Linked DNA regions of Homo sapiens: region 1 is linked to region 2. The links come from fine-mapping of genetic effects on gene expression. A gene starts in region 2. The other region holds a variant in brackets. All regions are shown on one strand. Distances are from middle to middle.

The links. PIP is the estimated chance that this variant, and not a neighbour inherited with it, causes the effect.
Region 1: its variant is fine-mapped to the expression of PDGFA in whole blood (INTERVAL, PIP above 0.99).

What each region holds. Positions count from the first base shown.
Region 1 is chr7:479,018-494,421 of GRCh38, forward strand. No RefSeq gene overlaps it. Among named protein-coding and RNA genes, the nearest start is that of PDGFA, 33 kb to the right of the region's middle. RefSeq lists enhancers at 903-1,423, 11,623-12,402, 12,403-13,182. The variant C/T (reference allele first, on the strand shown) is at 7,587.
Region 2 is chr7:512,011-527,414 of GRCh38, forward strand. PDGFA (platelet derived growth factor subunit A) reads right to left here and starts at 7,836. Exons shown (of 6, transcript NM_033023.5): 1 at 6,929-7,836; 2 at 5,384-5,480; 3 at 341-445. The coding sequence starts at 6,991. It overlaps PDGFA-DT (PDGFA divergent transcript), which reads left to right and starts at 8,381. Exons shown (of 3, transcript NR_033963.1): 1 at 8,381-11,306; 2 at 12,070-12,270; 3 at 12,844-13,222. RefSeq lists enhancers at 318-825, 3,612-4,113, 4,783-5,705, 6,628-7,549, 9,394-10,315 and 1 more and silencers at 4,863-4,962, 6,806-6,895, 7,356-7,495, 7,776-7,865, 7,966-8,305 and 3 more.

The DNA.
Region 1 (15,404 bases), 33 kb before region 2:
GAGGGAAGGAGGAGGGAAGGAGGAAGGAGGAGGGAAGGGAAGGAGGAGGGAAGGAGGAGGGAAGGAGGAGGGAAGGAGGAAGGAGGAGGGAAGGAGGAAGGAGGAGGGAAGGAGGAGGGAAGGAGGAAGGAGGAGGGAAGGGAAGGAGGAGGGAAGGAGGAGGGAAGGAGGAAGGAGGAGGGAAGGAGGAAGGAGGAGGGAAGGGAAGGAGGAGGGAAGGAGGGAAGGAGGAAGGAGGAGGGAAGGGAAGGAGGAGGGAAGGAGGGAAGAGGGGAGGAGGGATTGGTATGGTCAGTATTTTTTATTTGTCCGTCTGATGGCCAGGTAGTGGTGTCTGATTGCGGCTTTACTTTATGTCCTCCTAATGGCAACTGGTGTGAAACATCCTTCCATTCGCTCCCGTGCTGTCAGCGGATCTTCTTTGATGAAACGTTAGCTGATGTGGGAACAGCTACTCTGCCAGGCTCTGTGCCAGGCTCTGAAAATCTGTGACAGAGGCACATAAGACATCCTTGCTCTCTTCATGGTGTTTACAACCTCATGGGAGAGGCAAACACATAAATAAACCTGGTGCCTCGAAGGTTTGGAAACAGAGCAACAGAGCTTTGGAAAGGGCTGGGTGGGCCGCTCCTTCCCTTGTTGCCCCCTGCACACGAGACCCAGCAAAGCTCCAACTCCTCGTCTGGGAACTGAGGGTGATACGGCACCAACTGCGTCAGCGGCCCAGTCCACAGCACCAGGGGCTGGGAAGAGCTTTGTAAAACTTTGCTACCGTTGCCTCCACCACCATCAGCTGGAGGGTCACAGAAGGCGACCCCAGAGCCGGAGCCGGAGCCAAGCCTCAGCCACGAGTCAGCCTCTGCCGGCTCTGAGGACCCCCAGAGAGGGTGCCCCTCCCCAGTCATGGTTTCCAGGCAGTGACGCAGGGTGGTCTGCACCAGGCACCCTTTTCCAAGGATTTCAAGTTAGGTTTGTTTTCCAGAAAGCCAGTACTGGGGCCAAGCCAGCTCCAGGTGAGACAGGCGCTGGGGGTGCTGGGCTGGCCACTCACATCCACCCTCCCCCGGCCAGCGGGCAGGGAAGACCCCCCAACCTCCCTTCCTAGAAAGCGGCCCCATCTAAGAGAAGCCTTGAAATCGGAGCGTCAGGAAAGGAGTGTGGGGCTCAGCCCAGAGCTTTGTCAGCCTCACCAACACGGGGTCCATCCAGAAGGCTCCCGGCCTCCCCGGCCCTTCCTGGCTTTTAGTCACTGCCGAGCTTGTGAGCACTTGTGTGCTCCGGTGAAACGGCCGAGGGCAAGAGCCCTGGGGGGCAGGGGCGCTGTTCTCAGTTCCTGGAGGCAGCAGAGTGGGAGGAAGAGGCCCTGAGATGCCGTCTCAGTGCCCCCACCCCCAGCTTAGGAGAGAGATTACCTGGCCAGGGCCATCTGAGCAGCAAGATAGAGAACCTCTCTCCCTCAGACCTAGGAAACAACATTTGGGGTGCAATCGCCCAGGGAACCCAAAAAGGAGCCCCGGGAGGTCCCAGCCCTAGACTCACACTGACAGGTGCTTCTCCAAAGGAGGGGGCTTGTGGGTGGGGGGCAGCCATGCAGATGGGCCCAACAGCCCCTGGGAGCCAAGGCAGGGGCAGCTCAGGCAGGCAGGGCAAGGAGCGAGCGCAGGCCGAGGATCAGGGTGGGGCAGCATGGGGGCTGGGACCTCTGGTGCCCCCACCACCACCCTGGTGAGGACAGGAGGCACTCCCGGGGCTCGCATGGCTGCTGACCGCAAGCTTATCTCTCCCTGTGTGCATGTCTGCCCCTGGAGACAGGACTCTCTAGCTGCCAGCCTCCCGGAGAAGCCCCAGGCTGAGCTCACCCAGTCCCCTCCAGGCCCTGAACTGCCTCTCCTCGTCCCGAGCAAGCACTCTCCTCTGCCCAGACCCCTGGCTCCAGGCCAAATCCAGGGCTGCTGAGGAGCCCGAGGCCAGGCCCAGGGGAGATGGAGGAAGTGTCAGGTGCAGGCCAGGTCGCTGTTTTCTGATTGATAGGAAAAGAGGGCCAGGCAGGGCCCTGCGGAGGGCAGGGAGGAGTCCAGGTGGAACCTGGGAGGGGAGGCAGCTGGCCAGGGCTCCAGGGAGCCTGAAAAGAAAACAGCCCCTCTCCGAAGCCTGGCACTGTCCTTCCTCTCCCCTCAGGCCATGGGCTCCCATGGAAATCAGGCCAGGTCAGAGGGCACCACAGTTTAAGTGTGAGCCCCTGCAGATCTCAGATCCGTGAGCTGGGGACAGGTTCCCTGGGGCTGCAGGAGCTCCAGAGGAAGGCCGAGGTGGGGCCAGCCCGGCAGGACACAGGTACCTGGTCCCGCTAATTAATTGCTTCCAGCAGGCTCTGAAGAGCAGCTGGGCCCAGGAATGCCCCCTCCAGTGAAGACCGACTCTGTCTAACTTGTGAAGGTTTGGATACTGACGGCGAACCGCTCTTAATAAATCTCTCTCTCCTTCTCATGCGCAGCTCATCTGCAGGGCTTGGTGCCTCTGGGGGGCCAGGACGGTGGGCAGCCCTCCTCCCGTCCCCACACTCCTCCCCTCCCCACCCTCCTCCCTCCCTTCCCGCCCTCCTCCTGTCCCCACCCTCCTCCCCTCCCCAACCTCCTCCCCTCCCCACCCTCCCCTCCCCACCGCTGGGGCTGGTCCTGCTTCTTAGTGCCCTCCTGCCTTGAATGAGCACAACCCATGCGGTGGTCCTCCTGCGTGCCACCTTCTCTGTGCTTCACCTGCATCCCTTGCTGGTCCTTGGGTTCAATAACACTGTGGGGAGTCTCCAGAGATCCCACTAGACCAGATCAGGGGCCCTTATGGACCCTCCCCACCCACCTGAGAGGCAGAATAGCCTAGAGATTAAAAACTCAGAAGGGCCAAGTTCACATTCTGACTCCTCCACTTACAAGATTTGGTGTAAGATCCTTCCTGAGCCTGTGCCTCAACTTCTCCATTTTTGAAGCATAGGTCTCTGGCAGCACCTACCCATGGGTGGTTGTGAGAATTAAAACCTAAAGCATCTAACACCCCATCTGCCCCCAAGCAGCACTAGTCACTGCTGTCATTTCCTTCAGGCACTTACTTCAGTCTACGATTATGTTCCTTTTTGTGTATGATTAATGTCTAAATTTCCCTCTTAATGGTTAGCTCCAGGAAGGCAAGAAATTCATGGTGTCTGGCAGAGTGACAGGTCCCTGTTAGGTGCTCAAGAACTTATGTTGTATGGATGGATGGATGGATGGATGGATGGATGGATGGATGGTTGGATGGAGGACAGTTGGATGGATAGATGGATGGATAGATGGATGAATGGGTGGATGGATGGATGGATAGGTGGATTGGTGGATAGTTGTATGAATAATAGACGGCTGAACAGATTGATGGTTGGATAAACGGATGGGTGAATGGGTAGGCAAGTGGGTGGATAGTTGGATGGATGATAGATTGTTAGATAGATGAATGAATGGATGAGTGGATGGAAGGGTGAAAGGGTAAGTAGATGATGGGTAGATGGATGTGTAGGTGAGTGAGTGGATAATTGGATGGACAGATAAATAGGTGGATGGATGGATGGATCAGTAGATAGTTGGATGAATGATTGATGGTTGGAACAGTTGGGTGGATGGGTAGGTGTGTTGATAGTTGGATGGATGATAGATGGTTGGATGGATTGATGGATGGAAGGATGGATGGATGGATGGATGGATGGATGTGTGAATGGATGGATGGGTAAGTGAATGAATGGGTGGATAGTTTGATGGATGGATAGATGATAGATGGATGGATGGTTGAACACATGACTGACTGGATGGAGGGATGGATGGATGGATGGGTAGATCAGTGGATAGTTGAATGAATGATAGATGGTTGGACAGATGGGTGGATGGGTGGGTGGGTGGATACTTGGATGGATGATAGATGGTTGGTTGGACTGATAGATGATGGATGGATGGATGGATGGATGGATGGATGTGTGAGTGAATGGATGGGTAAGTGATGAATGGGTGGATAGTTCGATGGATGGATAGAAGATGGATGGATGGTTGGACACATGACTGGATGGATGGATGGACGGATAGTTGGATGGATGGATAGATAGAGAGATAGATAGATGGATAAGTGGATGGGTGGATGAGAGGATCTAGTACCAGGGGGATGGCTCCACCTTGATATCCAACTGAGGCCCCTGCCAATGGGTCCATCCTGATTTTGAGGAAGAACTTTGGCGGGGACCTGGGCCAGTCCTTGGCCCCCCCACCCGTGGGATATTGGGCGGGCGGGGATAAAGGGACAGCCTCGGTATCATGGACAAAGGGGCTGCACAACATGGGTGGGATGGGAAGACTGGCGGTGAAATACGCGGGTATGGGTTAAAAAATGGATGGATGGATGGATGGATGGATGGATGGATGAGTGGATGGATGGATGGATGGATGGATGGATGGATGGATGAGTGGATGGATGGATGACAGGAACTAGGACCAGGGGGATGGCTCCACCTTGATGTCCAACTGAGGCCCCTGCAATGCGCACCATCTGATTTGAGGAAGTATCTCTGCTGGAACTGGCCAGTACTTGCCCCCTCACTGTGGAATTTGGGCTGAGCCTGGAAAGCTGCTCCAAGCTATTTGCAAAGGGGTTTCCAGCCTTGGATCCCTAAAGGCTGCCAGAGAGAGGCTCCTGTGGTTCCCTGGGACAAGGAGACCTCCTTCATCCTCCATGCCTGTTTCTCAGACAGTGAAGACAAGGCACAAATGTGTGCTTTGGAGGTGGCTGAGGGGCTCAGACACTGCAGTGTGCAGGCGCCTGCCAGGCCTGATGTGGTGATGCTCGCTCAGGGCCTCTAGGGCAACCCAGGGTCATGTTTGATTTGACGAAGGGGTTAAGTGCGCTGCTCTTTAAAAGCCGGAACACAGACAATGTGAAGCTTCCTCCCTCAGACCCACCACATTGGTGGGCTTTACTTCAGCCCTAGGGACTCCTTCTGTCCCCTCACCCCTCTCAACTCCAACCCCCCCTCCCCAGACTGCAGAGAGGGGCCGGTTCTTGCCAGAGTCGCTCTTAGCCGTTTTGTGAAAAATCCATTTATTGTCTTCATTGCTTGGGAAGTTATAATCTTGAGGCTGCAGCTTCCTAAGGCGTTGCCATGGAGATGAATTTTCTGTCATAAATAAAAGTATTCTGGGGTCAGGAGATCTCAAGCATAACTAGGACAGATTTTGAGGGGGAAAATGCAAGAATTTCAGAAGCACATGAGATGATTTGGGCTGCCTTTTCCGGAGGGTGTTTTTTAGGCTGTCCTGAATTTGGCCTCTAGATGTGGGACCGTCCCTCTGCCGTACCCCCAACCCCGTTCCCCCAAGCCGACACTGTGTCTGCCTGCCCCTCCCCTCCTCCACCTGCTCAGGGCCAGAGCCTTGGGGGACCTGGTTTGGAAATCCAGGTTGGGGTGACGTCTGGGGTCACCCAAAGACGGGCTGGCTCCCAGTGTGTCCTCAGACAAGCCTTTCTGTCCCTGGCCCTAGACCCTGCCTGGGTGAGGGCCTCATTCACTCAGCCTAGGATTTTTGGAACATTCCTCACACGCCTCCTACGGGCCAGGGCTCACTCAGGTATTTCCCCTTGGGCTTGGGGCAGGCAGGGGGACACTCCCACTCCCGCATGACCCCTGCTTCCGAGGGCCCTGACCCCACCCCCACTCTTGCTCACTTCCCACCAGCCCCCATGGACATTAGCTTTAGGGATTTCCTTTTGTTCAGGGTCGCTGCAGGTCTGTGTTCGAGAAGGTGGGGGAGGCGGGACTGGAGCCCGGGAGGAAGGTATGCAGGGCTGAGGGGCCTCTGGAAGCCACCCAAGCCGACAGCCTCCGCCAGCAGTCAAGGGCTGTTTGCCAACCCCCATGCACCCCCTCATTAGGTAAACACAGAGTCCTCCATCAGCACAGGGCCCCAGAGCCATCCCTTGCACAGAGGCCCCAGGGTCCCCCGCGCTCGAGGGCCCCCCATGACCCTGGGACTGGGACTGCGGCACCCTGGGCCTCTCCTCCCAGCCCCGAGGCTCTCACTGGAGGACCCATCTTCCAAGGCTGCCACAATCCCAGGAGGCGGCTCCAGCCCCAGTAGCTCCAAAAAAACGAATGGAGAGGTGAGGAGGGAGAGAACAAAAGAAAGGAGGGAATGAAGGAGGGAGGAGGCTACGGGGTGAACCCTTTGCAGTTTGGACCTCAGACTGTGGTCCCCTCACCTACCTCCCCGGACAGCACCACCCTCCCTTCCCACCTTTGATGGGTCCCTGTCCCAGGAGAAAGCCCATAGAGACATCACACGGGAAGATCCTGCAGGAAGCCCTTCCTCCCTTGCAAACACTCGCAAAAAACGGCCCTTGATCATGGAGAAACAGGCTTCCAGGGCCCCCAGGGGCTGGGGTCCACGGTTGCAGGCCAGCAAGCCACAGCTCCCAGGCTGGGGCTCTAGTGAGTCTAGCCTCCCCAAGACCCACTTCTGCCAGGGGTTCTCTGCCTCCTGATAAATAACTGTGACACTATCTGCCCACATCCCTTGCTGAGCAGCAAAATCAACACAGGACAGGCTGTGACTCGCCAGGCCACGAGGAGCTGCAGGACGTACACACTGCATCGCCATCTGTGGGGCTTGGACAGCCACAGGAGGGACATGGCCCCAGAAGCCTGGCAGGGCATCCCACTGCGAGGGCCCCTCAGTGCCAGCTCTCGTGGCCTCTCACCAAGTCTGGCCCCAGCCCAGCTTTCCATCGCCACAAGCTTGTGCAGTCCACACCCGCCACCAAGAAGGGCGCTGGGGGTTGGGGCCAATGCCAGGTGGGGCAGGGAGGGGACGCTGTGGGAGGGAGGGGTGGCTGAACAGGATAAGGGCCCTGGAATGCACGGCTCCACCCCTGGATGGCTGTGTCCTCGTCCACAGAACAGGGACAGGGCCGCAGAAGGGCACTGTCAGGAGGCGGGATCCCTGTACCCTGATGACTCCCGGGAAGCGGCAGAAATCACGGTCATGAAGGATTCGTAACCGGGGCAGGGCTCTTCTCAGAGCGGGAGAAACAGACAGCGTCCAAGGAGCACCCCACACTGTCCCAGCTGATAAATGAACACAGCTGCAGACCATAGCAGGGTCCTCAGTGAGTCCGAGCTCTCCTGACTCCGCGTCGGACTGAAGCATCCTCGAGGGTGTCTATATGAGCCTGTGTGTGAGCTTGTGTGTGAATGTGTGCGTGCCTGTGTGTGAATGTGTGTGCCCGTGTGAGCCTATGTGAGCCTGCATGTGAATGTGTATGCCTGTGTGTGAATGCATGTGCTTGTGTGTGAGGCGCGCTTGTGTGTGAGGCATGTGAATATGTGAGCCTGCATGTGCCTGCATGAGCCTGCGTGTGCCTGCGTGAGCCTGCGTGTGACTGTGTATGCCTGTGTGAGCATGTGTGTGCGTGTGACTCCATGAGCCTGTGTGTGAATGTGTGAGCCTGCATGTGAATGCGTGTGCCTACGTGAGAATGCGTGAGCCTGTGTGTGAATGTGTGTCCCTGTGTGTGGACCTGCA[C/T]GTGAGTGAGTGTGCCTGCATGTGAATGCGTGTGAATGCATGAGCCTGTGTGTGAATGTGTGAACCTGTATGTGAATGTGTGTGCCTGTACGTGAATGTGTGTGGTGCTCCATGTGTTTTTGTGTCTATGTGTTTGTCTCTGTGTGGCTGTAACTTTCTGTGACTCTCCAAAAACCCTGATTCAAAACCAAAGACACCACAGGAAAAGAGGACTACAGAACAATTTCCCACTTAAGCATGGACACAAAAATCCTTAACAAATGATTAACAAGTAGAATCAATATAAAAAGAAACGTATTTAATGACCAAGGTGGGTTAATCTCAGGAATGCAAGGTTAATGTAGCATTTGAAAAACTAATCAATGTAATTCACAATAATAGAATTATGTAAAAAAAAATCACATGGTAATTTTAACAGATGCAGAAACCATACAATGAAATGCAATAGATGCAAAAAAAATGGACACAATTCAACAACTTTTCATGATTTAAGAAAAACAAAAAACCCTCTCAGAAAACTAATAGGAGAAGCAAACCTCCTCAACTTCATTAAAGGCATCTACAAAACAGCTACAGCTAACATCTTACTCAATGTTGAAAGGCTCATTGCTTTCTAGCTAATAACAGGAATAAAGCAAGATTGCCCATTCTATTGTCACTTCTATTTGTTCTGGAGGTCCCAGCCAGTACAACAAGGCAAGAAAAAGAAATAAAAGGCATACAGAATGCAAAAGAAGAAATACAACAGTTCTTATTTCCAGATAACATGATCATGTATGTAGAAAACTCAAAGGAATTTCAAAAGAATTCTACTAAAACTAATAAGTGAATTTAGCAAGGTTGCAGGATCTAAGGACGATATACAAAAACAAATTGAAATTGAACAACTAGACCAAAGATCAACCAGCAAGTAGAAGACCTGGACAACATCATACACCAACTCGATCTTATGTGCATCTACAGAACACTCCATTCAACCATAAAGGTATACACATTCTTTTTCTTTTGGAGATGGAGTCTCGCTCTGTCACCCAGGCTGGAGTGCAGTGGTGCAATCTCAGCTCACTGCAGCCTCCACCTCCCGGGTTCAAGCGATTCTCGTGCCTCAGCCTCCTGAGTAGCTGAGATTACAGGCATGCCCAACCATGCCCGGCTAATTTTTGTATTTTTAGTAGAGACAGGGTTTCACCATGTTGGCCAGGCTGGTTTCAAACTCCTGACTCAAGTGATCCGCCTGCCTTGGCCTCCCAAAGTGCTGGGATTACAGGTGTGAGCCACTGCGCCCATCCAGAAACACACATTCTTTTCAAGTGCACGTGAAACATTCTCCAGGATAGACCATATGTTTGGCCATAAAAGAAGTCTCAATAAATTCAAAATAATGAAAATCATACCAAGTATGTTCTCTGACCATAATGAAATAAAATTAGAAATCATTAATAGATGAAAATTTATGAAATTCACAAATATGTGGAAATTAAACAACACACTCCTACATAACCAATAAGTCAAAGAAGACATCCCAGCGAAAACCAGAAAATACTTTGAGATGAAAGAAAACTCAACTTACCAAAGCTTATGGGATGCAGCTTAAAACAGTGCTTAGAGGGACATTTATAGCTAGAAACTCCTAATTTTTTAAAATAAAAAAGAAAAGACGTCAAATCAATAACTTAATCTTCCATCTTTTAAAAAATGGAAAAAAAAACCAAACCAAACCCAAAACAAGCAGAAAAATGAAATAACAAAGATTAGAGAGCTACTTGAAAGGCTGAGGCAGGAGGATCACGTGAGCCCAGTTCAAGACCAGCCTGGGCAACATAGCAAGACTCTGTCTCAAAAAAAAAAAAATTACGGGGGAAATAAATTTTAAAAATAAAGAGTAGAAAAACAATAGAGAATATTAACAAAACCAAAAGTTGGTTCTTGAAAAAAATAAAATAGACAAAACTTTAGCTACACTGACCAAGAAGTAGACAGAATAATCAAATTACTAAACTCAGGAATGAAAAGAGGGAACATTAGTATCAGCCTTACAGAAATAAAAATAATAAAGGAATGCTGTGAACATTGTGTGCCAAGAAATTAGATAACCTAGATGAAATGAACAAATTCCTAGAATCACAAACTGACTCAAGAAAAAGAGGCCCGAAGAAATATGAAGACTTATAGTAAGCAAAGAGATTGAATTAGTAATCAAAAAACTTCCTACAAAGAAAAGCCCAGGACCAGATGGCTTCACTGGTGAATGCTACCAAATATTTAAAAAGGAATTAACACAAATGCTTCCCAAACTCTTTGAAAAAATAGAAGAGGAAAGAACTCATTCTGTGAAGCCAGTCATAACCTGTCACCAAAACCACACAAAGACATCACAAGAAAACTACAGACTACTATCCCTCATGTATAGACACACAAAATTTCAATAAATAAAAATATTAAATAAATAAAATATTAAAAAGCCAAATCCAGCAACATACAAAAATAATGACTGTGCTCCATGACCAAGTGGGATTTATTCCAGGAATGCAAAGGTGGTTCAACATACAAAAAAAAAATCAGTGTAATATACCATATTAACAGAATAAAAATAAAAATCACATGATCATCTCAACTGATGCAAAAAAAGGACAATCTAATATTTTTTCATAACAAAAATAAATAAACACTCAACAACTAGGAATAGAAGGGAACTTTCTCACCCTAATAAAGGACATCTACATAAAACCCACAGCTAGCTAAGGCAAAAGACTTAGAACTCTTCCCCTAAGATCAGGAGCAAGACAAAGATGTCGGCTTCAGCCACTTCTAGTCAACATTCTACTGGAGGTACTTTCTAGCCAGGGCAATTATAAATGAAAAGAAAACAGTTTTTACAAAGAACAAAGCTGGAGGACTCACAATTTTGGATTTCAAACTTACCACAATGTCAGTAATGAAGACCCAAGGCATAGGGAGAGACATATAGATCAATGAAATAGAACTGAGAGTTCATTTAAAAAGCTATACATTCATGGTTGATTGACTTGTCAAGGGTGTCAAGACTATTCAGTGGGGAAGAAGAGTCTCTTCCACAAATCGTGCTGAGACAATTGGATTTCCACCATACAAAAGAATGCAGGTGGACCCCTGCCTCACACCACATACAAAAATTAACTGAAAGCAGATCAAACACCTAAATATGAGAACTAAACTATAAAACTCTTAGAAAAATATCATAGTCACAAACCTTCATGAATGCATCTTGTGTACAAAATTCTGAGCAACTCTGGTCTAATCTGGTTTAATCCAACAGTTCAACCACCTTACAGTTGAGGAAACTGTGGCTCAGAGAGGGGTGAGGCTCTGCTGAAGGTCACTGACCCCCCATGAGCAGAAATGACCTTCAGAACACCCCTCCCTTTCCTGCACCAGGCCAATTCACTGAGCCATTTTGGTATGCAACTCTCTGCTGAGCCAAGAATGAACAAACAAATTAACTTCTCGGCAGGGTGCAGTGGCACTTGCCTATAATCCCAGCACTTTAGGAGGCTGAGGTGGGAGGATCCTTTGAGCCCAGGAATTTGAGACCAACCCGGGCAACAAAGAGAAGCCCCGAGGCCACACCAGTCCCACCTACTCAGAAGGCTGAGGCTGGAAGGATCAGTTGAGCCCAGGAGGTCGAGGCTACAGTGAGCCATGATCGCGCCACTGCACTCCAGCCTGGGCGACAGAGAGAGATACTGTCTCAAATGAATAAATACGTATAAAAATAAACAAGTGACTTTCTTGAGACCCAGTAGCCATAAGTCCTCCCTGACATCCACAGTGCAGGGTCTAGGCTTTTCCATCCATCAGGGCTGGAGGTCTGGCTGTGTAGACAAGTCCTAGCTCTTGGTTCCTGGGGGAGGGGATTTGGGAGTCGACCGTGCCAGTGGACGCTGAGTAGCACAAGGCTGTGCCAGGAGGTCCAGAGGAGCCCAGGACAGGGCAGAGCCTGGACTAGAGACAGGCAGGTGGTCCTGAGGTCAGGTGGGGTTCACCACTGAGTTATGAGTCTCTGCCTGACAAGCTTGAGAAGCCTCCCACGCCAGGTGGCAGCTGCCTCTCTGGACCACAAGCCCCGGCACGCCAGAGCGGCTGCATTCCCTTCTGAAATGCAGCTGTAGGGAAAGACCCAAAGCTCCGACCGCTGACCCCTCCCTGGGGATTCAGTGAGACCTCGGAACCCCTGGGGCAGGCGTGCTGGGGACTACGTGGGGGGATACCTGCGCCATTCCCCAGACGCCTCTGGGGACCTGCTGGGGCTGAGCAGGGACAAGGAAGCCTCAGTGTTGGGAGCACCTAGATGGAAAGATTCCCAGCCAGGCCTCCCTGGCAAGGAGGTATGGAAGGGCAGCAGAAAGTGCCAGAATGGGGCTCCCAACCCAGCCTCTGCCCCACAGCCACATCTCCCAGCCCTCTCCGGAAGGGGTGTCACAGTACTGGCACCAATGGCCCTAGTGGGGGACAGGGGCTGTGAGGCTGGTCCTGCCTCGTGTGTGCTCTGGGCTTTTTCCTCCCAGAGTCCCCTGAGGGAGACAGATGGGGGTTGCAGCTGGTGCTCTGTGGCCCGCAGGGGATGGGGGGGTCTGTCGGCAGTGGCTCCTGCAGCCTGGGTCTAGGGCCTGCAATGGGCTTCCCTGCCTGACTGGGGTTGCCTAGAAGTCAGAGTCAAGGAGGGGTGTTTCTGTCTGTCTATATGTCCTGCACACCAGACGACTAAGGGCCTTGGTGGAGCCCCATGTCCAGGGCCTTGGGGCCACCAGGCTCCAGCTCAGAAACCAGAAGGGCCCGGGATGGCTTCCACCACCCAGGGAGGGGCGAGCAGGGGCCTCAGCCGCCGGATGCTGGTGCGTGGCTGGGTGACCGGGGGCCGGATCATAAATACTGCACATTTTTTGGTGGCTCAAAGGCCGGGATAGAAACAGTGGCTGTTTTATTCTGTAGAAACCACACGCTTTTCATCTGAGTACCCTCAGGGAGTGGGGTTGGACTCCAGCTGTGCCAGGCCAGGGTGGGAGTCCAGGGGGCAGGCCAACTCCCGCTTGCTGCAGTCACCTTTGAGGCCCCGCTGGGTCCCGGCTCCCACCCCAGGGAGAACGGGAGCAGCCTCAAATGCTGACGGCGAAGACCCAGGGCCCCCAGAAGTGCGAGGGCCTCCTTCAGTGCCCGCTCGGGGCCAGGGACTCTGCCAAGTGACCTGGTGTGCCCAGAAAGGACTCAGCCCCCAGCGCTGGGCAGGGCAAGGTGGCCTGGGAAGTCCTTCAGGGAGGGCAGGCAGGGACGCTTCAAGAGCCTGGGGTCTAGAGGTCTCATGGTGCCGGCCCTCACCACAGCTCCTGCAGCTCTGTGCCTCTACAAGGGCCGGCCACTAAGGAGTCCTCTCACTCAGTCTTTCCATCAGGGAAGCCACTCACAGGTGGGCAAAGGGGGGTAAGGGTTGGCGGTCCTGGAGCTCAGCCCATCCCACCGAGCCTCCCTCTCTTCCAACCAGGGCAGTGGTGCAGCCCAAGGTCACAGTGAGGTCATCCAACATCAAACAGCTGGGCAGAGCCCAGCAGAGCCCAGTACTCTCACCCCATGCTTGGCCGAACCTGGGAGGGGGCACCTGTCTCCCAAGCACTCTGACTCCCTGACCCCAACCCAGACCAGGCCTACCAAGTACCTGTGGTCCAGCTCACACCGGGCCCTGTCACCAGGCAAGCTTGGAGGTCTGGACGGGGGGCTCTGGTTGCCAAGGCCCTGCAGACGGCCATCCCATAAACAGCCCTCCCCGGCCACTCACTCCGTTTTCCCAGCTGCCGCCCCATCAGAAAAGTCCTGCGCTTCAACCCCGTTCCTTCAGCCTGGGCAGCCCCCCTGCTCCGGTTCCCCTGTGCCACGACAAAGCCAGCTCAGCTGAGGTCATGAGGTGGCAGACAGGGGCCAGGGTGTGACTGGGACAGTCAGGGTCAGACAGGGCCCGGAGCCCTGGAAGCTTCTCAACTTTGTTCTAAGCCTACAGAGCAGCAGGGGCTCTAGGAGGGGTGGGGAGAGCAAGGTGGCCTTGGGTTTGGAGAAGATAACCCTGGCTGCTCTTGGGAGAGCAGGTGGCTGAAGATGGCACGCAGATGGGTGGGCGACAAGGTTGTCCAGGTGAGAAGCAGCCAGCCATGGGGAGGCTGGTGCAGGACCCGGAGCAGTTGGGGCCATGCATACACGGGATCTGCCCTCGGGCTGCATGTATCCTCCTGCCCACCTCTGCTCAGCTCCTGCTGCTGCCACCTGGCTTCCTGCCCAGGCCTTCTCCAAGCCTCTGGGGGGATCCTGGAACCTCCCGGCATTCATGTGTGCAGGCTCCAGGTCTCAGGATTTGGAGCCCGGAGCTGATTCAGTGAGGTCTCCCACTTGAACATTTCACACCCCAGCCCCTCCCTGTATTGCTGGTATCTGCCCTCCCGTAAACCATATGCCCACAACTCTGTCCTTCAGGTTCTGCCTCTGGGGCACCCAGGCCAAGGCAACCCCCAACATCCCACTTAGTAGCCTCATCTATGAACGGCACCCCGATTTCCTCGGGAAACCCCGTCCTCCCCCATTTTCTGTCTTGTGCTTCTGATGGAAATCTATCCCACAACAGAAACGGTACATGGGACTCAGACCCAGCGGATCCCAGGACTCCGGATGGAGCCAAAGTGAAAGGTGGGGCCTGGCGCGGTGGCTCACACCTCTCATTCCAGCACCTTGAGGGGCCGAGACGGGAGGATCGCCAGAGGCCAGGAGTTGGAGACCAGCCTGGCCAACATGGTGAAACCCTGTCTCTACTAAAAATACAAAAAAATTAGCCCGGCGTGGTGGCAAGTGCCTGTAGTCCCAGCTACTCGGGAGGCTGAGGCAGAAGAATCACTTGATCCCGAAAGACGGAGGTTGCAGTGAGCAGAGATCGTGTCACGGCACTGCAGCCTGGACGACAGAGCCAGACTGCGTCTCAAAAAAGAAAAGAAAAGAAAGGCTGGGCGAGGCAGGCGGGTCCCCTGGACACTGGGGGACGATCCCGCGGCAGGGCTGGGGGGTGGTTCATGGCACCCCTGGACCTAAGAGTAGGAGGCACGAGGCCATGCCAGGCCCCACCCCAGGCCCCACACCTGGGGCTGTCAGCTTGGAGAAGCGCAGGGTAAGGGGGCACCGGGAAGCCGGACCCCGCGGAGACCAGGCACCGCGCCGAGGTCGTGGGAGACGCTTCGGCCCCCTCCCGGCTCAGAGGCCCCACCACTCTCCCCGGCTGGCGACCCCTCGCGGATGCTCTTCGGGACTCTCCTCCCGCCTCGGCGCTCTGGGGACCCACGTCCTCCCGGGCTGCCACAGCCGCCGCCCACCCTGCTCAGCGCCACTCACGGGTTCATCCTGCGGCGCACCCGCCTCCCGACGGCTAGGGGGGAAACTGAGGCTCTGAGGCGTCAGGAGCCGGCCAGCGTGGCCGCAGGGGCAGGGCCACCGGACTGTGAGGCGCTGGCTGGGCCGTGGGAGGAGCCCGGCGTCGGCCGCTGGGGCTGGGGGCCGAGGCGCGCCCACCTCCAGGGTCCCCGGCACGGGAGCCGCAAGGGCCAGGCCTCCTTCGCCCGCACCGACCCTCCTAGCCCGCCCGCCCCCGGGGCGCCGGAGCCTGGAACCAAAATTCTCCCTGCAAACGGAGGAGGCCACCTTCAGCTTCATCGCTGGGCACGGGTGGCGGTCACAGCGCTCCCGGGGTCTGTCACCCTCGCCGGGCGCCCCGGGAAGCGGCGGAACCCACAGGCGGCGGGAACCTGCCACTTCCGG
Region 2 (15,404 bases):
CAAGGCTCCTGGGGACAGGCCCCGACAAGACAGGGCGCTTAAGGAATTTATGATGGCTCTTCTCTCCTGGAAGCTCTCTTGGCCCAGACCAGGACTCCAGGAGGAGCAGGCGGGCTGGGGCAGGAGACACCCTCGAAGGAGGGAGGCCTCGGGAGAGGCCAGAGCCAGAGGCACCAGGGCCAGGCCTATTTTAGGGAGGAGGGAACGGGTGGCTTGCCTGAGGCCACTGCGCTGGGAGAGCGGGCAGCTCCTCCCCACCCGGCCCTGCCCTGCCCATCGCGGCCTCCTGGACTCACCCTGACCCGGCCCTGCCCTGCCCATCGCGGCCTCCTGGACTCACCGATGCTTCTCTTCCTCCGAATGGGCAGGGGCCGCTTCTCGGGCACATGCTTAGTGGCATGGACCCCGTGAGCTCTCAGGCTGGTGTCCAAAGAATCCTCACTCCCTGCAGGCGGAAGGAGAACACCGTGAATGCCCCAGGCCCGTGCGCTGTGCCCTGGGCCTGTCCAGCCGCACTTCCCACAGACCAGCTTTGGGAGCCACTGGGGAACAGGCACCTGGCGGCACAGCCCCTCACAGCTCCCGCCATTAGGGGCCCTCCAGGAGAACCTCGATTCCCACCAGGGCTTTCCAGAGATGCAGGGCATGAAACACTGGAAACCGCAGAAAACGCCCCGTTAGCACAGAGGTCCCCACATTCAGGGGCCCGTGACGAAGCGCAGGGCCCTTCGGGGAAGAGGTTGCAGGTGGTCTCCCCTACGGTGCCTCCTCCAAGGTAGCCCAGGTGAGGGCTGCCCCGGGGCAGGAGGGGCCTGAGGCCGCCCAGCTCCGTGCACCTCCCCGAGGGGCACAGGGCTAAGCCAGGCCCCACCTCTGTCTGGGGGCTGGAGCGAGGGAGAAGCAGAGGCCGCTGAGATTTCTGCAGGTGCCTGTACGTCTCCCTCCCTCCCCCTCACTAAAGCACTCCTGGAAGAAGTGGCCTAACCTCTGAGGGGCACTGGAAGCCGCCAGACTGGGCTGCGGGCCAGACCCCACTCATTCCTGAAATGAGTCTACTCTAGGGCCAGCGGCCATGAGGAGAGGCAGGAGGGCACGTGGCCTCTCGTGGAGGCTACACGGAGGAGTTCCCGCAGCCTGACAGAGGGAGGCGGCCTGCGGAGAGGGGTTGAGAGAAGCTGGCATCTGCGAGCCGTGTTTACAGCCAGGCGGCCAGGTGCAGGTGGGGCAGTGGCCCAGAGCCAAGACCAGCACTGACCGGGGAGCAGAACTGAGAACCTATCCCCGCCACCCCACCCAGCTGCACACACCACCCCTTCACAGGCGCTGACGGCTACAGCAGACAGGCTGGGGGAGTCTCAGGTCTCTCCAAATCCCGCAGTAGGGAGAGGACCCACAGTCCTGCCCATGGACACACTGCCCGCACCTGGGCACCGCGGGTGGCTCTGGGCCTCCTTGCCTTGGCCCCCTGGTCCCAGCTGGGGAGTCTCTTCCCATCTCCCTCCATCCTGCCCCCCCCACCATATAACCAAGGGTGAACAGGCGCGGAGACAGTGAGCCTCACAGCCAGGATGCTCCAGAGGCACAGAGATCTCCCTGCCCCCTCCTGGGAAGCTTGGGAAGTCCCGGTCACCAATCCAGACGGCTAATGGGCTCTGCACCTCCTGGGTTCAGGACTAGCAGCCCAAAGTGTCTCTCCCCAGCCCATCGAGGCATCCGTGACTATCCACAAACCAACCGGAGAAACCTCAGCTTCCTCCGCACCCCCGAGGAGCCTGCGGATTTAAAATGAAGCCCGCAAACCTCACAGAAGGTGTCAGGCAAAGACGAAGCTCGCCCGGAGCCCAACTTTTTACCGAAAATGACTCAATGTTCCAATGACACTAATTTTTTTTGAGACCCAAAATAAGATCAGAACAGAACTACTCATGCAGTAAGAATTTCCCATCAACCAACTGTTACAAGCAGCATTTCTTTTCATGAAAAAGTGACACTTATGAATCACATCCTGGTGGTGGCCATCTTGCCATGGCCAAACCAAAGAGTAACGGGTCCGTTCTCCACTCGTAGGAGAAAATTCAATAACACCAGCTCCCATTTTCCGATGCCTTGTGATAGCCACGTTTGCATTAGCTGCTTTACCAATGACTTAGCTTCTGAGTGTGCGGTGGGTGCTATCACTTCTTCACATCCGAGGAAACTGAGGCCCAGAGAAATATAACAGGACCAGAAGTGGCTCGCAGGAGACTCATGTGGTCTGCGTCCACAGAGCACAGTCCCCGTGCCCCGCCACCCTCTAGCCCTGGCTTAATAAACAGAGAAGACGGCAGCCGTGCTAGCTCATTGACCCCCAGAAAGCCTGAGCTGGCAAATTTCTTGAGACAAGGGACAGAGGGGGAATAGCTCCCAGTCTACCAAGCCCACCCTTTGCTCCCAGCTCAAGATGCCGAGAGTGGACCACGCTCACCAAAGCCGCCCACAGCTCACCAAACACAGCTCTGAGCAGCCCAGGCCCAGGTGGCCTGGCCGGCAAGAATCACCCCTAAAACTGCTCCCAGGACAGTTAACCAGGAGGCTTTCCCTTTTGTCTTTTAGGCACAGATGTCCCAAGGACAACTCCAGGACAGGGAGAATCTCCCAACCATCAGTCCTGGTCTGGCATTACTGGCCCGAGATGGGGCTATTTACGTTATCAGCCGCTCAATGAACCACGGGCGCCAGGCCAGACCACTTTGGGGAACAAAGCTCCCCAGCTGCCACTGCACACAGGACAAACAGGCCCTAAACGCGGGCTGCCGGTCATTAAAAGACCACATGCTGGCCTCTGGATCTAAAAGCCACAGGTGAAAAGCCTTCACTCTTCACTCCAGCACACCCTCCGAATGAAACGCTTGGGCTCCGGGAGGATGGTGAGGAATCCCACTACCCGTGCTCCTCCAGCCACAGTCAAGGAGCGGCCAAGACCCCAGACGGTGCCTGGCTCAGTCTCCCCAACTGTACAGTGGGACGCAGCCTGCATGCTGGGAGGAGCCAAATGCCAGTCACAAAGCCCCACCCACCTGGAGGAGGAGTCAGCATAGCTGGGGCGCACCCCTGGGATTCCTCAAAGCCTCTTTTCTGCTTCCTACAGCGTGGGCCTTAGAGGCACCTAATGCCAAGAACATCAGCCTGGAAGGGTTATAAAGGGACTCCGAGGGAAAGTTCGTTGCGTTGGGTTTCTCCCAGCACCCAGCCCCTTCCTCATGAGCCCCTGCACTGTCCCCTGCCCCTAACAGACCAGAAGCACCTCTGGATTGAAAAGGGAGTCCAGGACCCGGAGGGATGCTTACCCAATGAGAACTGACCTCAACCAGTTTACAACCCTCCCTACGACAGAGAACGGGAGTTGAAGAAAAGACACCCCCTACAAGCTGGAGGAGCAGCCGGTGCCTCTCCTGTCCTCAGGCGAGAGACTGTGGGTTTCTCTGGTTCTGTTTTCAGCCACACCTGGGGAGGGGACTGGACAGGACCAAGGAGGCCCCCCTATGTTACAAAAGGTCCCCCACCAGGGGCAAGAGAGGAGGTAGATGCCACCCCCATATTCTCACACACAAAGCCTCCCAGACACTAGGAGAATCCTATTCAGACCCCAAAACCTCTCACGGACACAGGAGGGCTGAGATCCACTCTGCATTCCCTGGGGCAGGAGGAGAGAGCTCCTGGGACATGACTGCAGAGGGAATTTGAAACCGGCCAGGACTAGCTTAGGGGCATCCTTGTTTTTTTCTGTTCGGACCCTACGACCTAGAAGCCCCCGGGTGAGGAATGCCATCAGCATACCCCACGAAGCTGCAATGCTAAAGGCGATAATGGGTGGGGGTGGAGGAGGCGGGGCGCCAAGACCAGAATAAGAATAGTCCCAGCAGAAAGTGAATGGCCCATTTCCCTGCAGCTTCCAAAGCCAGTCCCACGAGGAGGCCCAGCTCTCCACAAGCCTCCCCTTCTGCTAGCACCCCCCCCCAGAAAAAGCCCTGAAACCTTCTCCAGGAAGCAGCCCCCCCCCCCCACTTTTCCAAACCCATCCAGGACCAGCGAGATTCAGGCAAGGGATTCCCCCCCACAAACCAGAGCCAGATCCTTTTCCCTAGAGTTATCCACTGAGGGATCCGGTCAAAATCCCCCCGCCCAGCTGTGCTGTGGGAGTGAAACTCTACCGCACCCCCCACCCTCCGCCCCCGATAAGGATCAGCCCAGGGATTTCCTGGGTCAAGAAACTACAGAAACCATCGGCCTTGTTAGAAAATGGTTTTGGCATGAAACGAAAATAGTTCAGGCCTCTCCACCACCATAATTAGGTACAAATTTCCAAATGACTAGACCATGTGATTTCACTTAATCCCCGCATGCCCCCCCTTTTTCAGAGTCCTTTGCAGGGAGAGAAGAATCTTCATGTCACGTAACTTCTTCCAATTCTGCTGCCTTTAGTTACTCTTTTTAACAAGTTCATCGCAGAGCCCCTTTTTAAACCAGGTTAAGGCTCCGACTGGAGTTCCCAGGCCGAGTGCTCATTTTGAAAAGAGCGCCACGCACGCCTGGAAGAGAGACCTCGCCTTCTAGGAAGGGGCTCTCTAGCCCTGAGCGGGCGGGCGGCCACCCTACACCCTCGCCCCTCCCACCCACCCGTGGTCCACCGGGGTCCCCCGGGGTGAGAGGCCCCTTTAACCCTTGCCAACCCGCAGCAAAACTCTGTGCTTGCAAACAAGCTGTGTTCTCTAGTGGCCCGGCCCCAGGGCCCGAGGGTGAGCCGCAAAAATAGCCCCCAGGCAGCAGATGCGTCCAAGGCTTTTCATTGGGTCGTGAAAACAGAAAGACACCGGCTTCTGCAGCCACAGAGGCCCAGCCCTGCGGCAAGAACGCGGCACCAGCTCGCAGGGATTACAGAGGGGGCCGGGCCCTGACCCGGGGGCCGCCTCCGCCCGCCCGCCCGTCGGACCGGGAGCCGCGCCTGCCCTTGGGGCCTCGCTCCGCGGGCTGCCCGCCCGGCGCACGGGCCAGGGCTCTGCGCCCAGGGTCTGGGCCGGATCCTGCCGCTCCCCCGGCCCGAGGGCAGGCGCGGGGCCCGCACACCTGGCGGAGGCCGCGGCTGAACTTTGTGTGACACACGCGGCGTTTTCCTTAAAGGCGAAAACAATCCCGGGGCGAGCGAGCAGCCCTCGGCCGCCGCTGGGAGAGAAAGTGGAGACTGGAAGAGAAACTCCTGACTCATCCGCCCGGGCGCTTATGGCTGGGGATTGGATTCTGACCTTTCGGTGCGCTCCTGCGCGGCGCCCCGCCCGGCCCCAGCTCGGGGCGCACAGGCCGCCCGCCCGCGCCCTCCCCGCGCGCGGAGGGAAGGGGCGCGATTTACCTACGGAGTCTATCTCCAGGAGTCGCTGGAGGTCCCGGATGCTGTGGATCTGACTGCGGGCCAGCCTCTCGATCACCTCGCGGGGGATCTCGGCTTCCTGCAAGCAGAGGCCACACGGTCAGCGCCCGCGGCCCCGACCCCGCCGGCACGCGCCCCCGGCCGCCAGGAGCGCCGCCGCCCCGGGCCCGAGGAGACCCCGCGAGCGCCGGCCGCAGTCCCCGCCCCAGCCCCCGCGGAGCCCTCGCCCCGGCCCTGGAACCAGAAGCCGGGGGTGGGGCTGGAAGAGACCCCAAATTCTCCACCCGCATCCATGTTCCGCCCTTTGCAAAATCAAAGCCCCCCCCCCTTTATATTTTCAGACAAAAGCCCCCGCACTCCGGCCCCTCCACCCGGGGTGTCAGTTACAGAAGGTCTAGGGGGCAGCGAGGGGGCCGAAAGTTTCTGATTTAATAGTGAGATCAACATCTAGAAAGATCAAGTTAAAATGCGTCACGGGTCGGCGAGAGTCACGGCAGCCCTAACACTTTAATCCAGGCAGGGCTTAAATTTCACGCCCCGGAATCCCGGGCCGAACCCGTGGAGAGGTCTCTCCGTCTCACAAACACACGCACGCGCGCGCAGACACACACACGCGCACACACATCTCACTCACACACTCGCCCCACCCCGGGCTCCGGCCCAGCCGCGGCCCTAGCGCCGACTAAGACGCCCAAATCCAGCCGGCGGCCGGGAGAAGAAGCCTCCAGGGAAAGCGAGGGTTAAACTTCCACCTCGCGCAGCTCTCCGTGCCCTGCGGAGACCACCCTCACCTCTGGCCTCCCCCACTCCCCTCCCCGATTTTTAAGGAGAGTCGGGGGTCGCTGGGGAGCCTGAAGCACTAAGTTCCCACGACGGGGGCTGTGGAAAGTCATTCATCACAGCAAAGCTCCCGGGGATGGGGATGGGGATGGGGATGGGGGGGCGGGGACGCCGCGGTGGGAGGGTGCGGACGCCTGGCCCAGCCCCAGCTCGCCTCGCTCAGCCACCTGTAAGCAGGCCCGGGCGGGCGGGACTGCGCCGGCCCTGAGCCCCGCCGGGCTTGGGGACTGGGAACCGAGGGCTGCAGCTTGGCGCTGCCCACCCTGCCCGGCCAGGGGCTTCCGCAGCAGCCGCCCCTACCTATTTATCCGCCGCCCTTCTCTCCTCCCCAGGCTCCGCCGGCTCACACACACCCCCTTCCCCGCTCCCCGCACCCCGCTGCTGCAGCGCCCGCTGCGCCCCAGCTCCCCTTCCCCGGAGAGGACACTGCGCCCCCCGAAGTTTCTGCCCACTCGTCCACCTCGCTGCTCCCCGGTCCCCCCGAGGCAGAGCGACCGACGCAACACGCTGGAAACTCCCCACACACACTTAGGCATGGCAGAAAATAGAACCCAGTTGGGAAAATCTAAACATCGACCACCCTGGCAGGAACCAAAACGCTCTCTGCAGAGCCCGTGGCGCCCCAGCCGGCGGGGGGTGTGCGCCGGAGGAGCCGGCGCAGGGACGGGGCGCGGGGGCGGCACCAACCTCGGCCAGAACATGGGCGAGGTATCCGCAGCCGAGGAGCAGCAGGCAAGCCAAGGTCCTCATCGCGTCCCGAGGCGCTGGCTGCTCGGAGGAGAGGCGAGGCCGCGGGGCGGGCGCTCCAGCCGGTCTCCTGTGGCGGCGAAATTCAGTACCATCCCTTAGGGAGCGCGGCCCGGAGGAGGGTGGCGCGGGGAGCACGGAGCTGGCGGAGCGCGCCCGGCGCGAGCAGTGAGTGCGGAGAGGCAGGCAGCGCCAGCCAGGAGGAGGAGAAACAGGGAGTGCGCGCCCGCAGCGCGGGGAGCCTCCTGGGCCGCCGGGTAGGGGGTGGGGACGGAAGGGGCGGAGGGCGGGGGCTGGGCTTCTTCCTCGGTGCGTTCCCGGTGCTGGCCGCCGCCGCGCTCGCTCCCCGCGCTGGCTTCAGGAGCGACCCGGCCGGTAATTCTGCATATTTGCGGACATCAGCCCCAAGAAGAACTCCGGAGGGAGTCTGGGGCCGCCGCCGCCGCCGCCGCCACACCGATCACCTGCCTGGACGCCTGGCCCGGCCCCGGCTGCGAGCTGCGAGCCGCCCTGCGCGCCCACCGCCGGCCCCGCGCTCGCCTCCGGCCTCCTCTTGCAGCCGCCGCCCGGCCGGGCACAGCGCGGCCCAGCACCCCCTCCGCGGCGCGCCCTCGGCTCCGGCGCCGCGCTCCGCCCTCCGCTCGCCGGGGCCGGGCAGCGCCCGCGGCCGAGCCGCCTGGCAGCCACCACCCGCCGCCCGGGGCCTCGCTGCGCCGCCCGCGCGGGCCTGAGGGCGGGCGCAAGGCCGAGTCGGCGCCTCCGCCGCAGCCGCCGCCGGGAGAGGAGGAGGAGGAGTAGGCGCAGGCCCGGCTCGCCGGAGTTGGGCGGGCTCCGCAGGGCGCGCGTGTGGAGCCGGCCGGCGGCGGGGAGAGGGTTATAGCGCCGCCGCCGCGCCCCTCCCCCGCCCCCGCCCCCGCCCCCCCCCCCCGCCTCCCCCGGATTCCGGGCCTGGGACCCGCACCTCGGAAGCGCTCGGGGTTCGTGCGGACCCGGCAGGGCCCGGGCGCCGCCGCCGCGGCAGGGAGCACACACGCGCTCGCGCAAGCAGCTAAATCCATCAAAGCCCCGCGCCCGGCTCCGCGCCGGGGCTCCGCGCCCCTCCCTCGAGCTTGCCCACCCTCCAGTGCCAGCTGCAATCCTGCGGCACCGGGTGGGGAGGGAGGAGGCCGCCGCAGAAGCGCCGCCGTCGCCGGCTCGCCTCTCTCGGGCCCCAGCGGCGGCAGCGGGCAGCGCCCAGAGCTGCTGCGCCAAAAAGGGCCAGAGAGCCGGTCCCCGCCCCCGCCCCGGCGCTCCGGCCGCTCTCCACGGTTCGGATCCAGGGCCCCAGCCTTCCTCTCTCCATAAAAGGAGGGGGAGTCAGTCTTTGGGGAAGGAGGGGGGCGGGTTTGGGGCACTCACCTGGCGGCTGCCACGCGCCCCCGCCCAGGATCCGAGGCCTGGGGCATCTGAATGAGGACCCTCCACCCACATTTCCACTTGGGAGCGAGCTCCAGTCGGGGAAAGGGCCTGCAGCCCGCCTCGTCCCCACCCTGGGACCCCGCGCCCCCCAGTCCCCCACTCCCGCGCCGAAGGCAGGGCCGCGCCCTGAGCCGGGAAGTCGAGGGGATGGAAGGGAAAGGAGCCACCGGTGAGGGTCCCCCGGGTTCTGAGCCTCCCGCGTCGGGATCCGTGGGGCGCACAGAGCGCCACCTCCGGCCGAGGCGCAGCTCAGAGCGCGATGCGGGGGAGGAACGCGCGCGGAGGCCGAGGTCTGAGCGTGGCTAGACGGCTCCCACGCCGAGAAAGGGCGGGTGCGCCTGGGCTGGATGGATTTCGCCTCCCTAGACCAGGAGGGATTGGACCCTGACTACAGGTCCAGGTGCTCGTCAGTGCCCTGCCAGGGGGTCTACGCGTCCTGGTACCGGGTCCAGCGGGGTGGCGTGCTGTGCAGACCCCGAGGCTAGACGGCCTAGGCCCCTGGAGCCCAGGAGACGCTTCCTTGGGTGAGCAGCGGAGAATCCCGCCCGGCCCAGCCGTCACCCCCAACCCTGTCGATTAAACCCCTGCCCCCGTCGCGGTCGCCCTCCCTCCAGACAAAGGCCGTTAAGGCGCAGCCCCGCGGGCGGTCTTTCATCCCCAGCTAGGCCAGCTCTAGCATTTCAAAGGCCGAATCCGGAGAGCGCTTCGGGGGCTCTCCCCTTCCCCCAAATATTTGGGGAGCGACGCCTCTCCCTCCGCTCCCAGTGGGTCGCGTCTACACGCGCCCTTCCACACACCTGCAGGCCCCCTCCCCACGTCTCTCCCTTCCGTTGGCCGCAGCCCCACACCACGACCCCCGCGGTCAAGCATGCCCTCTGGGTGGTCAGGACCAAGCGGGACCGGGACAGAACCAGGGGAGCCTTGGAAACGTGGAGGAGCCCCTTAAAGCCAGGCCTTGTCCCTCCAGGGGGAACTTGCGGCTTGGGAGGGGACACCCACTGCATGGCTTCTGGAAAGAGCCGGACTCGCAGGGCCAGGACGCAGGCCGGACCCCGGCCTCATTCTTCGGCCAGTTATCCCGGAGTGGCGCGCATCCTGTCTTCCTGGGCCTCGGACTGCTCGCGCGCAGAGGGGGCCCGAGGACACCTCTGTGGGGTTAGAGGACTCGGTAAGACGGTGTGGAAGGCAAGGAGGAAGGTCGCGTTGTATTGGGGATGGGGTACCCGTCCCTCCCAGCTTGAGGGATCCTGGGGGTCCTCGCCGCCTCTGAGGGCCTAGATGGCTGCTTCCCTCGGCTCCCCTGCCCGGCCTGGAGCTACGGGTGCGCCCAGCTAGAGTTTAGGGCCACCTGGGGACGTGCAAGGGGCGCTGGAGCGAGGCGGGGGCTGGGGCGGGGCGTGGGTGCTTCACCCGCGGGGGACGCAGAGCTTAGGCGAAAGCGGTGCAGGCATCTCTCTAATCGCCGGCCGCTATTAAAAATAAAACCGCGACCCGTCGCCATGGCGACCACAACAACAGCGGCCGCGCGAGGGAGGCGAAAACTTGTGCAGCCGCGCGACAGCCGCCTTCTGGGGAGACTCGGGGCACGACGCACCCGGCGTGGGACTGGGACCCCCCTGCCCGGCCCCGCCACATTCTCCGCCGGATCCCCGGAAGACACAAGGAGACGTGGACCCCCACAGGCTTTTTTGGGGGGATTGGGCGTTGAAACCGCAGGGCTGACTTAACCAAGAGGTCACCGACTTGGATAAAAAACCCACGCCCGCGCGGACCCCCCTCCCCGGCCTTCGTTTCCATTCAAACTCCCAGCGTCCTCATTGCAGCCCCTGGGGAGGGGGACGGAGGGACGAGGTGGGTTTCAGGTGCTCGGCCCAGGAGGGGACGGTGCGACCCGGGCCCCGCCGGCGGGTTTTGCGCGCGGAGGCTGCGGCACCTGCCCCGCCCGCCCTGCCGCGATCCTTGCAGACGGGGGCGGTCACATGCTTCTTTCTGGCCAGGAATCGAGTTTCACTTCCAGCCGCTATTAGTCGGTTCACACAGTTCACTGCAAACATTTGATAATGAGGCTAAATATACTCCCGCGTCGGAGGAGGCGTGGGCGTCCCCGCCCAGGCCCGGGAGACAGAGGCGCTGACCCCGGGACAGAGCCTGGCTTTGTGCGGGAGGCAGACGCGCCCCGCGCGCCGCCCCCGAAACATTCGCACCCCATGCTGAGGCGCGCGTCTGGGAGTCCGTGGGCGCCCCGAGGTGAGCCCGGGGCCCCTGGCGGAAGCAGCGGGGAGCTCCCGGCGGGTGCGGGGAGGTGCTGGTGGGAAGCAAGGTGCACCTGGCGGCCTGGGATGTCCGGTCGCCCCCGGAGCCGGTGCATCCGGCCTCTCCCGGCGCGCCCCGACGTGCCCGCGGGCTCATAATTACCGTGAGTCAGGTGCCCCAAATAGGCCGAGCGAGGGGGGCCGTCGCGCAGCAGGGGCGGGTGGCCGGACGTCTGCCCGGGACTGGTTGCCTCCCGCCCCTCCCCAAGACCCTGGCACCCAGGGAGGGCGGGAAAGGCCTTGGCCATTCCTCTGGGTAGGGGACTGGAGAGGGGAAGAAACTTTCGCCGAGTCCAGCGCTGCCCCCTCATACCCATCCCCACCCAGGCTGCGTGTCCGGGGCCCCTCCGGGGCTTGGCACCAGCAGGCACGCAGCGATCGCCGTCGTTGTTATTTAGTAGTAGTAGTAACGGCTGACATTTACAGCGACGTCGATGGCGCCAGGTGCCAAGCTCTTTCCTTGTATAATTTCATGGACACTCACGCATCAACTCTAAGCGAAGACTTGGAGCGGGGCTCAGCACCCCAGGGGTACCTCTGCAACCTCGGTAAATATAGACTATCCTCAATTCGCAGGGGCATTTGTACGTGGGGTGTACAGGCAGGAACAGGAAAGACGCTGTGGCCACCCAGGAGTAGGGGCGGCAGCCAACACCCCCTGGATCCCCAGTTCCAAGGTGCAGGGAGGGGGGCAGAGGCCAGTTCCCTCCGCTCTCTGCCCCTTGACCTTGGCCTTGGTGAGCTCTGTCCCTAGACTGCCCTGGGTGTCTGTTCCCTCATCTGAAAAGCGTGAGGCCCACAGCCGTCACTGCACACAGCTGCCGTCACTGCACACAGCTGCCTCCACTGTCGGGAAGCCTCCCTCCTGCCCACCTGCCCAGGAAAAGCTGCGCTAGCGTGCCCTGGGCAAGCGCCCTGCTGGCCACCTGCCTGCACCTGGGTTGGGGGTGGGGGGACCAGCTGAGCACCCAAATCCTGGCCTCTGCCCCCAGCGCCAGAGCAGATTTCAGAACAATTTGTAATGACGAAACCCCACGTTTCCCTTTATCTCTGGGCAAGGCTTTCTTCGTCCTAGGCAATTAATCCAAAAGCAACACCAGCCGAGTGGGCTGGACTCCTTGAAGATCAAAACTGCCCAGCGCAGGCATTAATTAAGTCATTATCTCAGGCCCCCAGCGACTAGGGATCAGGCCTTTCCAGTTCACACTCTCCAGAAAGGGAGATAACTGCCCCGCCAGCAGGGTGGGAAGGCTCTCTCTCCATGTTGTTTTAACTCCCTATTAAATCATTTTATTTTAAATACACAAACAGAAATGAAGTTGAAAATAGCACAGGAGCCCACTATCACTGTGTGAACATTTTGTGAATGAAGACATGTATGAAAGGATGTTTGGAGGCTTCAAGAAACGAAAGCCGAGAGTCTAGCTAGACCAGAGCCATCCAGCCCAGGAGCGATGGCCACGTGTGGCCGCTGGACACGAGAGACGTGGCCAGTCCAAACTGTGCAGTGCGGTAAGGGCAGAACACATGCCAGCTTTCGAAGGCTTAGTAAAGAATGCAAAATTTCTCAATTGGGAATTTTTGTATGAATTTCAGGTTGAAAAAAACATTTTGGATATATGGTGTTAAATAAACATGATTACAATGACTTTCGCTGTCAGCCTCCCGGAGGCTCATTTTGCTCCTCTGGGCCACAGCCAGCTCAGAGGGTTGCTCTAGGAAATATCTACACGTTCTTGAAGCACAGGTTTATGTGCCAGGCACTGTACTAAGTGCTGGGGACACGGCGTTAAGACCAGGCCCTCACGGAGCCCTCACTCTCTGAGGAGGAACAATAAGTCAGAGAGCGCGCGAGTGCAGCCCTTCAGGCAAAGGATTTCAGGCCCAGGTCAGGAAGGCCTTGTCTGAGGAGTCTGAGAAGAAGTCAATTGACAACAGCTAGAACATCTAGGTCAGGCACTCCAGGCCGACACGACAAAGCAGGTGCAAAGGCCCCAGGGCGGGAACCAGCGTGGCTTGTTCACAGAACAAGGAGGTAGATCGCTTGCCCTTGGGACCAAAGGAAGGCTCTGGATTTTATTCTAGGGGCAGTGGAAGCCGTTGGAGGGCCTCAGGCAGGAACACAAGGTGTCGTGGCAGAAAGGAAGAAGGGGCCGGGCACGGTGGCCCACACCCGTCATCCCAGCACTTTGGGAGGGAGGCCAAGGCAGGAGGATCGCTTCAATCCAGGAGTTCAAGATCAGCCTGGGCAACACAGCAAGACCCCGTCTCTACTAAAACCCTAAAACTTAGCCAGGCTTGGTGGCATGTGCCTAAGGTCCCAGGTCCTCGGGAGACTAAGGCAGGAGGATTGCTTAAGCCCAAGAGTTTGAGGCTGCAGTGAACTATTATCACACCACTGCACTCAGCCTGGGTGACAGAGTGACTCTGTCTCAAAACTAAATAAATAAACAATAATTGTGTTATTCTGTCTCCATTTCTCGCATACTGAATTTAAGGTGGACTCAGCCAGCGGGTTCAGGCCCAGGGTCTGTCCTGCAGCTACAGTCAGGGTTGGTGGCTGCAGCTGTCATGGGGGAGCGGTGAGGTTGGGGGAACAGGGGGGCTGGCCTGCATCCCCCACTTTCAGGTGGGCTCAACTCCGTCTCGTGGCCTATTGGGGGCCAGCATGGGCTTCCTTACAGCATGGAGGCCTCCAGGGTCAAGCTGCCTCTGGGATGGCAGAGGGCTTTGTGTTCGTGCTCCCACGCCCACAGTGGAGGCAATACACCCTTTCCAGATCTAGCAGTACAGGTGCGCAGCACCACACCTCTGTACGCTCTCAGCCTAAGCTGTCCCCAGCCCTCCTGGCCTCTGGAGGAGGGGACGCAGAAACTCCATCCCGGACAGAGGGAGAGCCAGTGTGTGCACAGGCAGCTTCTAACACTGCTTCGTGGTTTCACACGGCTCCCTCATGGAGAAGGGGCTGGAGGAGGACAGGGAGGTGTGCAGTCATCTGGGTGACATATGAGGGTGGCTGGGCTTCCAGATGGCTGCAGTGGAGACCGTAAGAAGAGTGCACGAGGTAAGGCTTCCGAAACGCCCAGCAGGTTCCTGGCAGCTGCAGACAACTCAATTCTTAGCACTTGCCAATAGCTGGGGTGTAAACACTCCCGCCGTCGCTATTTCGGGCTATGCTCCTTGCCTCCACTGGGTCTGGCTCTTAAAACAGCAAGAAAGCAACTCGGAAGCTGAGTCAGCCCCGTCTCTCCACCGTGCCCACAGATCCTTCCCTGTTCCAGAGCTCCCGTTGGCAGCCAGCTGGGCTTCTCAGGGGGCATCTCCAGTCCTGTGCAGTCAGAGAAAACCAGGGAAGCATCTTGATCTCACCTAGAAATTAAGGCCATCACATCCAACACCTGCATTTTACAGGTGAGGAGGCTGACATTACAAGTAGTGGTGGTGGTGACATTTGAACCCAGACCCCTGTCCTCCGGGGCCTGTTTCCCTGGGAGCTGCGGACTCTGCGTGGAGACACAGAAATAGAGACCCAGATGGCTCCCGTAGAAACAGAGTCACCCCCCAGGGCAGCTGGAAGGGAGTGGGAGAGGACAGGTCCTCAAGGGCCTCTGCTCTCCACTTCCCTCCCCGCCTCGCCGTGTCCTCTCCCTTCCTCTCTCCAACCCCTGCAGGGGGAGGCCTGGCTGGGAAGAGACGTTTTCTGAGTAGATGTTTTGGCTGGGCAGACTGAGCTTTGAGAAGCAGCCAGGCCGAGCGGGGCTAGGGAGTGAGGGCATTGGGGAGCCTGAACTTTAGTGACCACTGCCCCTCCCAGGCCAAAGCCGCAAACCCCTCCCATCCCCAAGGGCTTCAGACTCAAGGCCCAAGTTCCTGCATGTTGGATGTGAATTCCGAGTTCCAAGGTGGGGCAGGCGTGGGCCTGAGTCATCCGGCAGGTCACTGGGGTCACCCGGTTAAAGCCCAGGCCAACCCCAGAGCGCTTCCCCTGGGCGCTGCCCACAGCCTCTGTTCCTCTCGTGACCGTGGATGGTTGGGAGCAGCCTGTGGTCCCTCATTCCATCCGGTTTTGAGGGCCTCACCGCTGTCTAAAGGTGCAGGTTAGACATCGGGAGAGGCGAAGGAGCCAGGCCAAGCCCCCGCGCCCCTGACCTTCCTCGGCCTCTGCTGAGGGAAGAGGATGAGACGCCGGCCCTGCCCCATGGAAAAGACCCCAAATCGGGGTGACCAGCACCTCCCTTGAGCAGAAGCACAAATCTGACCTTCACCAGCAGGGCTGAGGTGGAGGGGACCCGAGCTCATGGGGCAGAGAAAGGAAGTGGCCTGTCGCGGCCAGAGAGAGGGGCAGCCAGAAAGCCACATGCATGTATGCATGGGAAGCACAGAAACTTCTAGAACAAAGAAAGTATGTGGGTGGGAGGGGGAGGAGGAAGGTTAAGCATACTGTACTTTTATTTATTCATTTGAGACAGGGTATCTCTCTGTCACCCAGGCTGGAATGCAGGGGCACGATCTCAGCTCACTGCAATGCCCACCTCCCAGGTTCAAGCGATTCTCCCACCTCAACCTCCCGAGTAGCTGGGACTACAGGAGGGTGCCACCACGCCTGGCTAATTTTTGTATTTTTAGTAGAAACAAGGTTTTGCCAT